Homo sapiens: one gene and its partner. The protein of the gene in region 1 purifies or fractionates together with the protein of each later gene. This does not show direct contact. Each region holds a gene or a part of one and is shown on either strand. Other genes may lie near its edges.

What was found. The genes of interacting proteins can lie anywhere in the genome.
Region 2: the proteins of ATP2B2 (region 1) and SRPRB purify together in Homo sapiens (affinity purification with mass spectrometry; 3 studies listed by BioGRID and IntAct, with this or other methods). This does not show direct contact.

Annotation. Positions count from the first base shown.
Region 1 is NC_000003.12:10,503,692-10,507,439, reverse strand, and holds the start of ATP2B2 (plasma membrane calcium-transporting ATPase 2), read left to right. Parts: upstream 1-1,853; 5' UTR 1,854-1,975; intron 1,976-3,748. UniProt on the Homo sapiens protein: ATP-driven Ca(2+) ion pump involved in the maintenance of basal intracellular Ca(2+) levels in specialized cells of cerebellar circuit and vestibular and cochlear systems.
Region 2 is NC_000003.12:133,808,676-133,812,423, reverse strand, and holds part of SRPRB (signal recognition particle receptor subunit beta), read right to left. Parts: intron 1,308-3,748; coding exon 1,225-1,307; intron 1-1,224. UniProt on the Homo sapiens protein: Component of the signal recognition particle (SRP) complex receptor (SR). Ensures, in conjunction with the SRP complex, the correct targeting of the nascent secretory proteins to the endoplasmic reticulum membrane system.

The sequences.
Region 1 (3,748 bases):
GGGCAGATGCTTGGCCCTGGTCCCTGGGGTGGAGCTGACTAGGGACTGCTGACTTAGAAGACCACCTAGAGGGGTGGCCAGTGGAATCCCCCCAACTACACCCCTAAGAGGGGTAGAGTTCCCATCTGCACCCGCAAGATGAAGCAGAGATGAGGCTGCTTTGGAAGCCCCCAGTCTTGGGCTATTGGTGTGGGGTCGAGAGCCTCCCTGAGGGGTGTCCTGGGCTGCTCTGTCAGAACCCCAGCAGGGAGCCTTGCCTGGCCTCTGACTCACACCCTTGCCCCAGTGGAGGCCAAGGCCTTGAATGACCACCCGGCCCTTGACATCGTAGCTTCGCAGCATCCTCCCTGCGTTGAGGCCACCCTGCGGGCTAAGGGGCAGGTGGGCACCCTTCCATGGGGCTGGGGGCTGAGGAGCAAGGAGGTCTCAGCATGGCCTACTGGTGGGAGACCCACCTCAGGCGCTCCCAACTGTCTCCCTCCCGTGGCCCCTCTGCACGGCCGGGTTCTGATTTTGGTGCAGTGCAGACTTTCAGCTTAACGAGACAAATTGGTATTCTGTGCCAGCCCAGGGATGGAGCGGCAGCTCGGGACGCTCGGGCGGGCAGCTCAGAGGTGGGCAGGAGGTGGGGGCAGGGGAAAGAGGCAGCTTCTGCCTGGAACTGCCTCCCGGGGCCGCCTCCAGCCCTGCCCCTGTCCCCCATGCACCCCTCCACCCTGACAGGTGCCCTGAGACACTGGTCCTGAAGGTCCTTCCACCTTCAGTGCCCTCCCTCCAAGCAGGGTACCCCTCCTGGAGGGGGCAGGGCAGTGGAGGCCAAGGCTTCAGAATTCTAGAGAAGCCCCTCGCCCCCGGTGACCTCCTAACCTTGCTCTTAGGGCTCTCCTCCCACCCATCTGGAGTTGAAAGAGCAGCAAGTCTGGCAGAGATTAGGCAGGAAGAGGTGAGCAGCTGGCTAGGGGCTTCCAACCCTACCGACTCCTCACCCGGGGTCCCTGGGTTCCCGTGGAAGTGTCAGTCAGCCCACAGTCGGCCTGCAACTCATCATAGATGTCCTGAAGATTAGGTGGGTGTACAGACATGCAGACACCCCTGCTGGTGGGCACCTTCTTGAGGCAGGCCCTTCTGCCAAGCCAGCCCCCACCACCACACCCCCCCGAGGGCAGGTGGGGTCGCACACAGGCAGGGCGGGTCGCAGGGGTAGCGCTTCAGGGCAGCAGAGAGCTGCTGCGGGCTCAGCTCCACTGGCCCTGGAAACACAGATGTGTTTAAAATGTGTTGAGTCGACTTCTCCCCATTTGCGACCTTTGCCCCTTTGCCCCCCAGGTCTGGGGGTGCCTTGACTGCAAAGAGGGGGGCCAGAGCCCCTGACCAAATAAGTCCCCCAGAAAGCAAGGGACGACTTGGGGCCATTTGAGCAAAATCCTCCCCTCTCTGCTCCCGTTCTCCCCACCACCACTCTCAGGACCCCCTTCCCTCCAGCACAGCCCAGCCCTACCCTCTCCGTGCCCTTGACATTCCCTCCTGCTTCTGGGGAGCGGGCATATTCCTGGGACTCTGCCAGCTTCGGTTCCTCATGATCCCACGGGAGGAATTAAAACCGCAAACAACAGCGTGGTGGTTCGGTCCACACACCCCCCCCGCCCCCCACTCTCCTCCCCCGTGCCCCCTCCAGAACCGGCCCTCCCTGTGTCCCTCCCTCCCTCCCTCCTCCCGCCCCCATCCCCCAGCCTCCGGCAGCGGCAGGGGCGGCCTCTGCCTCCCCCGAGATTGCATTTTGCCGGCGAGATGCTCTCCTAGAACCGGCGCCGGCGCCTCCGCCCCCCGCCCCCCACCCGCTCGGGCAGGATGGTACAGTCTGCAGAGGGGCCCGGGCACGCTGGCTGGGCTCAGCCGCGGCACCAGCTGCCGCACCGCGATTACGGGGCTGCCCGCCGGGAAACCGTGCAGGATTGGTGGTGATTTTCATAGCCAAGTAAGTACCGGCATCCCCCAGCATGAGAAAATAAAAAATAAAAAGCGCCCCACTCCACTCTCCCCTTCCTCCCTCACCCATTTTATTTTGTTTCATTTCATTTGATTTTTCTCAGTGCTGATGGTGGTGGCGGTGGCAGCGTGGAGGGGGGGTGGGAGCAGGGCTTGTTTATCTGGCAGCAGCCGAGGCTGCACTGGGAGCCGCCGCTGAGGGAGACACTAGTGTGAGGGTCCGCGTGTTGTGGGGGACGGCTGGATGCTGGGGACTAGGACAGGGGGGCCTCGGACAAGCGGATGCCCAGGGTCTCAGGTAGATTCCGGCAGCCTCTGGACTGCAAATGCCCCCTAAGGATGTTATGCAAGGGCCAGCAAGCTGGTGGCAGGGGACAAGGTTCTCTTCTCTCTGAGCCGGTCCCAGGGAGACCAAGAGGACTGGAGGGTGCCCGTTGCCCACCCTGGTCAGAGTCCCAGGAAAGAGGCAGGAGGAGGCCCCTGTGAAGCGTCCCTTTGGTGGGGTGGGCAGCTGTGTGCTGGGACTCATTGGGTCAGGCCAGCCGGGTCATGTGGTGGCAGGGACGTGTTCCTGGGTCCCCTCCATGGCCAGGAGGGTGGCAGGAACGGGTGGCCAGGCCATTTTGCAGCAGTCATGCTGGGTGGTGGAGTCGGCACCCTCTGCCCAGAAGCCCACTTCCTAGGCCAGCCTCAGTGGTCTCCAGCTGAGGGATAGGGCACCTGAGGCTCCTCCCTGCCCCCTGCAGGGTCAGGATGGGAAAATGCAGCAGGGGGCCTCAGGACTCCCTGAGGGTGGGTTGCGGACAGCAGCAACCCCTTTCTAGCCAAGTAGCTATTCCACACCACGGCTGTCCTCTGCTCACCCAGGTTGGGGGTTGGGGGTTGGGGGGGTGCTCTGGACTGGCCTGCCCCAATCAGGCAAGGGCCCTGGGGGTCTCGGGCCCTCCATGCAGAGGCCCAGCCTGGCTCGACCTTCAGAAGGGTAAGTGAGCAGGCAAGCCCGACCAGCCGGCAGAGGGTCTTAGTGCGACGCTGCATGCCCTGAGCCCAGCGTGGAAGGGGCTCCCTCCTCTCCTGCATTGCTCTCCGAATCGCTGGGAGGAGGCAGAGCTGACGTTTGGGGTATTTCCAGGATCAGCGGGCGCCATCCGGAGAAATTCTCCTTTGACGTGTGCAGTAGGAGGGGGCTTGGAGCGCAGGCCTTGGGGGCCTCCGCCTGTTAACTTCGTTGAAGGAGCAGTGGCAAAGAAGGGGCTGCAGCTCTGGGGAGTCCTGTGGGGGGTTGGGGGTCCAGGAAAGATGCTGATGGCCACCATTATTTAGCCACCTTCACACCCTAGTCCCATTCACATCAGGGCATATGCATGCCCACAAATTCACACATATGCACAGATACAAATATAGTACCCATAAGTAGTGCGTCATATATGTCCAAATCATATATACACATATGGAATGCCCATGCCCACACCCCAGCACCTGTAAATACAACCCACGTTCCTGAACACCACATGCTCACGTGCAAAACACAGCACACACACGAATGCAGTACACACATACACACCTGTGCATGCAGCTTGCCCACACATGCATGTAGCACTAACACGGGAAAGCAGTAGGCTGCACACAGTGCCCTGCAACAGCCAGAAATGTGTGTACCCACCTGAGGGCTGGCTCAGGTGTGAAAACAACAGGCACACACATGTGGGGCTCTGAATGCCATCTGCGTGCCTGCCCGTGCATTGGCAGGCACATGGCATGC
Region 2 (3,748 bases), about 120 Mb from region 1:
CAATAGAAAAAGAAAAAACATTTAATTGGAAATAAAAACCCAATTATGGCAAAATTTACCAGCTCTAGATTTGTCTCAATTGTCCAAGGAATTTTCTTATCTGTGACAAATTGTTCATCACCACCATCTTGTGGGCAAAGATGCAATAATGAAATTTCAGTCTAGACATCTTCAATAAAAGGCAAAGAATCTACTACTTCATTCCATCAAAACTAAAATGCTGCCAATTAAAGACATTATTTTAGGGACCGCTAAGAGAAAATACTGCCAATTAAACTATGACACCATCAACTATAAGATATATTCTAAATTCAGAGATATTAAAATGTGTCTTCAAATCAGTGAAATGTGGCATACTGATTTTCCTCTTCAGTTCTTATTAATGTTAGAGACCAAAAAAGAAGCATCTGAAACTGCAGCATAAGACTTTTTAGGGAAGAACTTAAGAGTCAGTAACACCAGAGCACACACTAAAAGAAATATGGAAATATTGTTCTGTACTTCTTGAAACATCAATTTTACGTAATTTGAGAATATATATGGGCCAGGTGCAGTGGCTCACGCCTGTAATTCCAGCACTTTGGGAGGCTGAGGCCAGCGGATCATGAGGTCAGGAGTTCGAGACAAGCCTGGCCAACATGGTGAAACCCCATCTCTACTAAAATTATGAAAAATTAGCAGGGTGTGGTGGTGCGTGCCTGTAATCCCAGCTACTCAGGAGGCTGAGGCAGGAGAATCACTTGAACCCAGGAGGTGGAGGTTGCAGTGAGCCGAGATCACACCACTGCACTCCAGCCAGGACAACAGAGTGAGACTCCATCTCAAAAAAAAAAAACAAAAAAACACTATATATATAAATGATGTTGGCATTTAAAAACTGCTAGGATTCATCCCAGCTTTAAAATTCTTTTTTCAGATTTTAATAGTCATATACATTATTAAATTCACCTTCAGAATAAATGCAAACATTTAGTAACAATGACAAGAAGGGTTAACATTTCCTAAACACTAAAAAACACTTTTTAAGCATTTTAATCCCATAAAATCCTCATCATCCAGGTGAAGGTGGACTTGCAACCCAGAACTGGCTGACCCCAAGGTCACCTCAAGGTCTACCACAGGATACCATGCTGCCTCCCAAACACCACCAGAGCAAATCACATGAGTGGCTTTGATATACAGATACAGACCTAGACAAGCCCACTTCACTTCTTTCCTTCTTACCTGGCTGAAGACTTAAACCGCTCTAAGAACTGAAGCCTCAAACTCTCATGGCCGGGAAGGTCAATCAAGGTCAGACTATTGCCCTGGGGATGGCAGCAATAACATTAACGTTTCAATACAGTTCCACGTTCACAATATAAACCTTTAGTATCATATATTGGCTACCAAACTGGTACCTAATTAACCAAACAAATGTTCACAAAGCATCTTCTACTCATAAAACACTAGTCAACGTTCTGGGGATGTAACAGTGGCCAAAGACACGGTTCCTGATCTGGCAAAATTTATGAGAAAGGTGAACATAATGTAAAATTACACATAAATATAAAATGAGAACACTGATAAATGTTTTGAGGGTACAGGAAAAACCTGTCTGGGGGAGTCAGGGAAGCATGATCTACCTGAGGCTTGGGAGATAAACCAGTGTGAGTATAGCAAAGTAGGAGTACTGTATGAGTATAAGCAAAAATGTGAAAACAGTAACAAGTACTCATAAACTAATAATGTAATATAAGAACTTACAATTTTTCATAGAGCATATTACTCTTACTGGGATCTCCAATCTTTATAACAAAGTACACTTTTATCATTTCCACCCTTAATCTAATTATTTAAATATTTATCTTCCAGACATATAATTTACTTGTTCCAACTCCGTCAGCATTTGTGTCAATTCCTGAGCCCCTACTGAGCAAATCTACGATGCACCCTAATAAGTTCTATTCACCATGCCAGGCTGCCATTCCTGAATATAAGGTCAAGGCCTGGAATGGTGAATAAAGTTTATATTCAGTGTAAACGTGGCTGTGCTCAACAATAAGACTCTTAGATGTGGCCTGGTACATGCAGCAGACCATCATTTCTTACATGTTCTACATTATCCACAGCCAACCATACCCACAGTTCAGAAGCAGGCAATCAGTATCCTGCACAGATTTAACACAATTCCAGCTGGGTTTATTATGACCTTACCTTTCACATAGCCTGTGCATTTCTTTATAGACAAATATGTTTTTTATTAGTCCCTCTCTTTTTTTTTTAAGTACTGTTAAGAGTCTGGAGATCCCAGGTTGGGACTTAACTGCTCCATTTCAAAAGCAGCACTATACCACACACCCTAAGCAATTTGGAAGATACATTACTAGGTATATTACTATCTAAAGAGATTAGATCGAAAACGTAAGGGGGTAGGAGAAAGAGTGAAGAGGGAAGGGAAAAATGCTCTATATATTCAGTAGAAATATTGATAGAATAGAAATATAGTAGAAATATAGAATAACAGAAGCCACATATGTAATTTTAAATATTCCAGTAACCATAATAAAAAAGTAAAAAGAAATTGGTAAAATTAATTTTAAGTTATTTAATCTAATATATCCAAAATATTATCTTTTAAAATGTAATAAAAAAAGAAATTATTAATGATACTTTACGTTCTTTTTTTCCATACTAAGTCTTCAAGATCTGGTGTGTACTTCACACTTACAGCATGCCTCAATTTGGACTAGTCCTAGTTTAGGTGCTCAACAGTCACATGTGGCCAGTGGCTACATATTAGAAGGTACAGATTTAAAGCATATCCTGGAGTATCCTAAGTTAAAAATCTAGTGCAGGTACTAGATGATCTTGCAAACCTGGAATTTCAAAATCTGAATCCTTGGGAGTTTAAAAAGGTCTGGGCCACAAAGAGTGTCATCATTGAAAAAAAAAACAAAGATATCGCTAAGATATTTAAAAACATGTCCCTTTATTTTTCTTTACAATCTTTAATTCTGGAGGCATGAGAAAGGGGAAAGAAGACAAAGAGAAGAAGAAAAGGTCTCAAACCACAATTCTAATTCATCCATCTATCCATCCACATCCTCCAACGAGCCCTCACTCCACTCACTCACCGAAACTTATTACATGGCTGGGTGCAGTGGCTCACGCCTGTAATCCCAGCAATTTGGGAAGCTGAGGTGGGCGGATCACTTGAGGTCAGGAGTTCAAGACCAGCCTGGCCAACATGGTGAAACCCCATCTCTACTAAAAATACAAAAATTAGCCAGGCATGGTGGTGGGCGCCTGTAATCCCAGCTACTCAGGAGGCTGAGGCAGGAGAATCGCTTCAACTCGGGAGGCAGAGGTTGCAGTGAGCCAAGATCATGCCACTGCACTCCAGCCTGGGCAACAGAGTGAGACTCCTGTCTCAAAAACAAACAAACAAACTTATGCATTACAATCGGTTTGGTAGTCACTGTCTACATTCTGAAGTTACAGAGGTATGTAAAATGTCTTTCCCATGATTCCTTATATTTTTTTTTTTTTTTTGAGACTTAGTCTCGCTCTATTGCCCAGGCTGGAGTGCAGTGGCGCAATCTTGGCTCACTGCCACCTCCACCTCCCGGGTTAAAATGATTCTCATGCCTCAGCCTCCCGAGTAGCTGGGTTACAGGCGCCCACCACCACACCCGGCTAATTTTTGTATTTTTAGTAGAGACAGGATTTCATCATGTTGGCCAGGCTGGTCTTGAACTCCTGACCT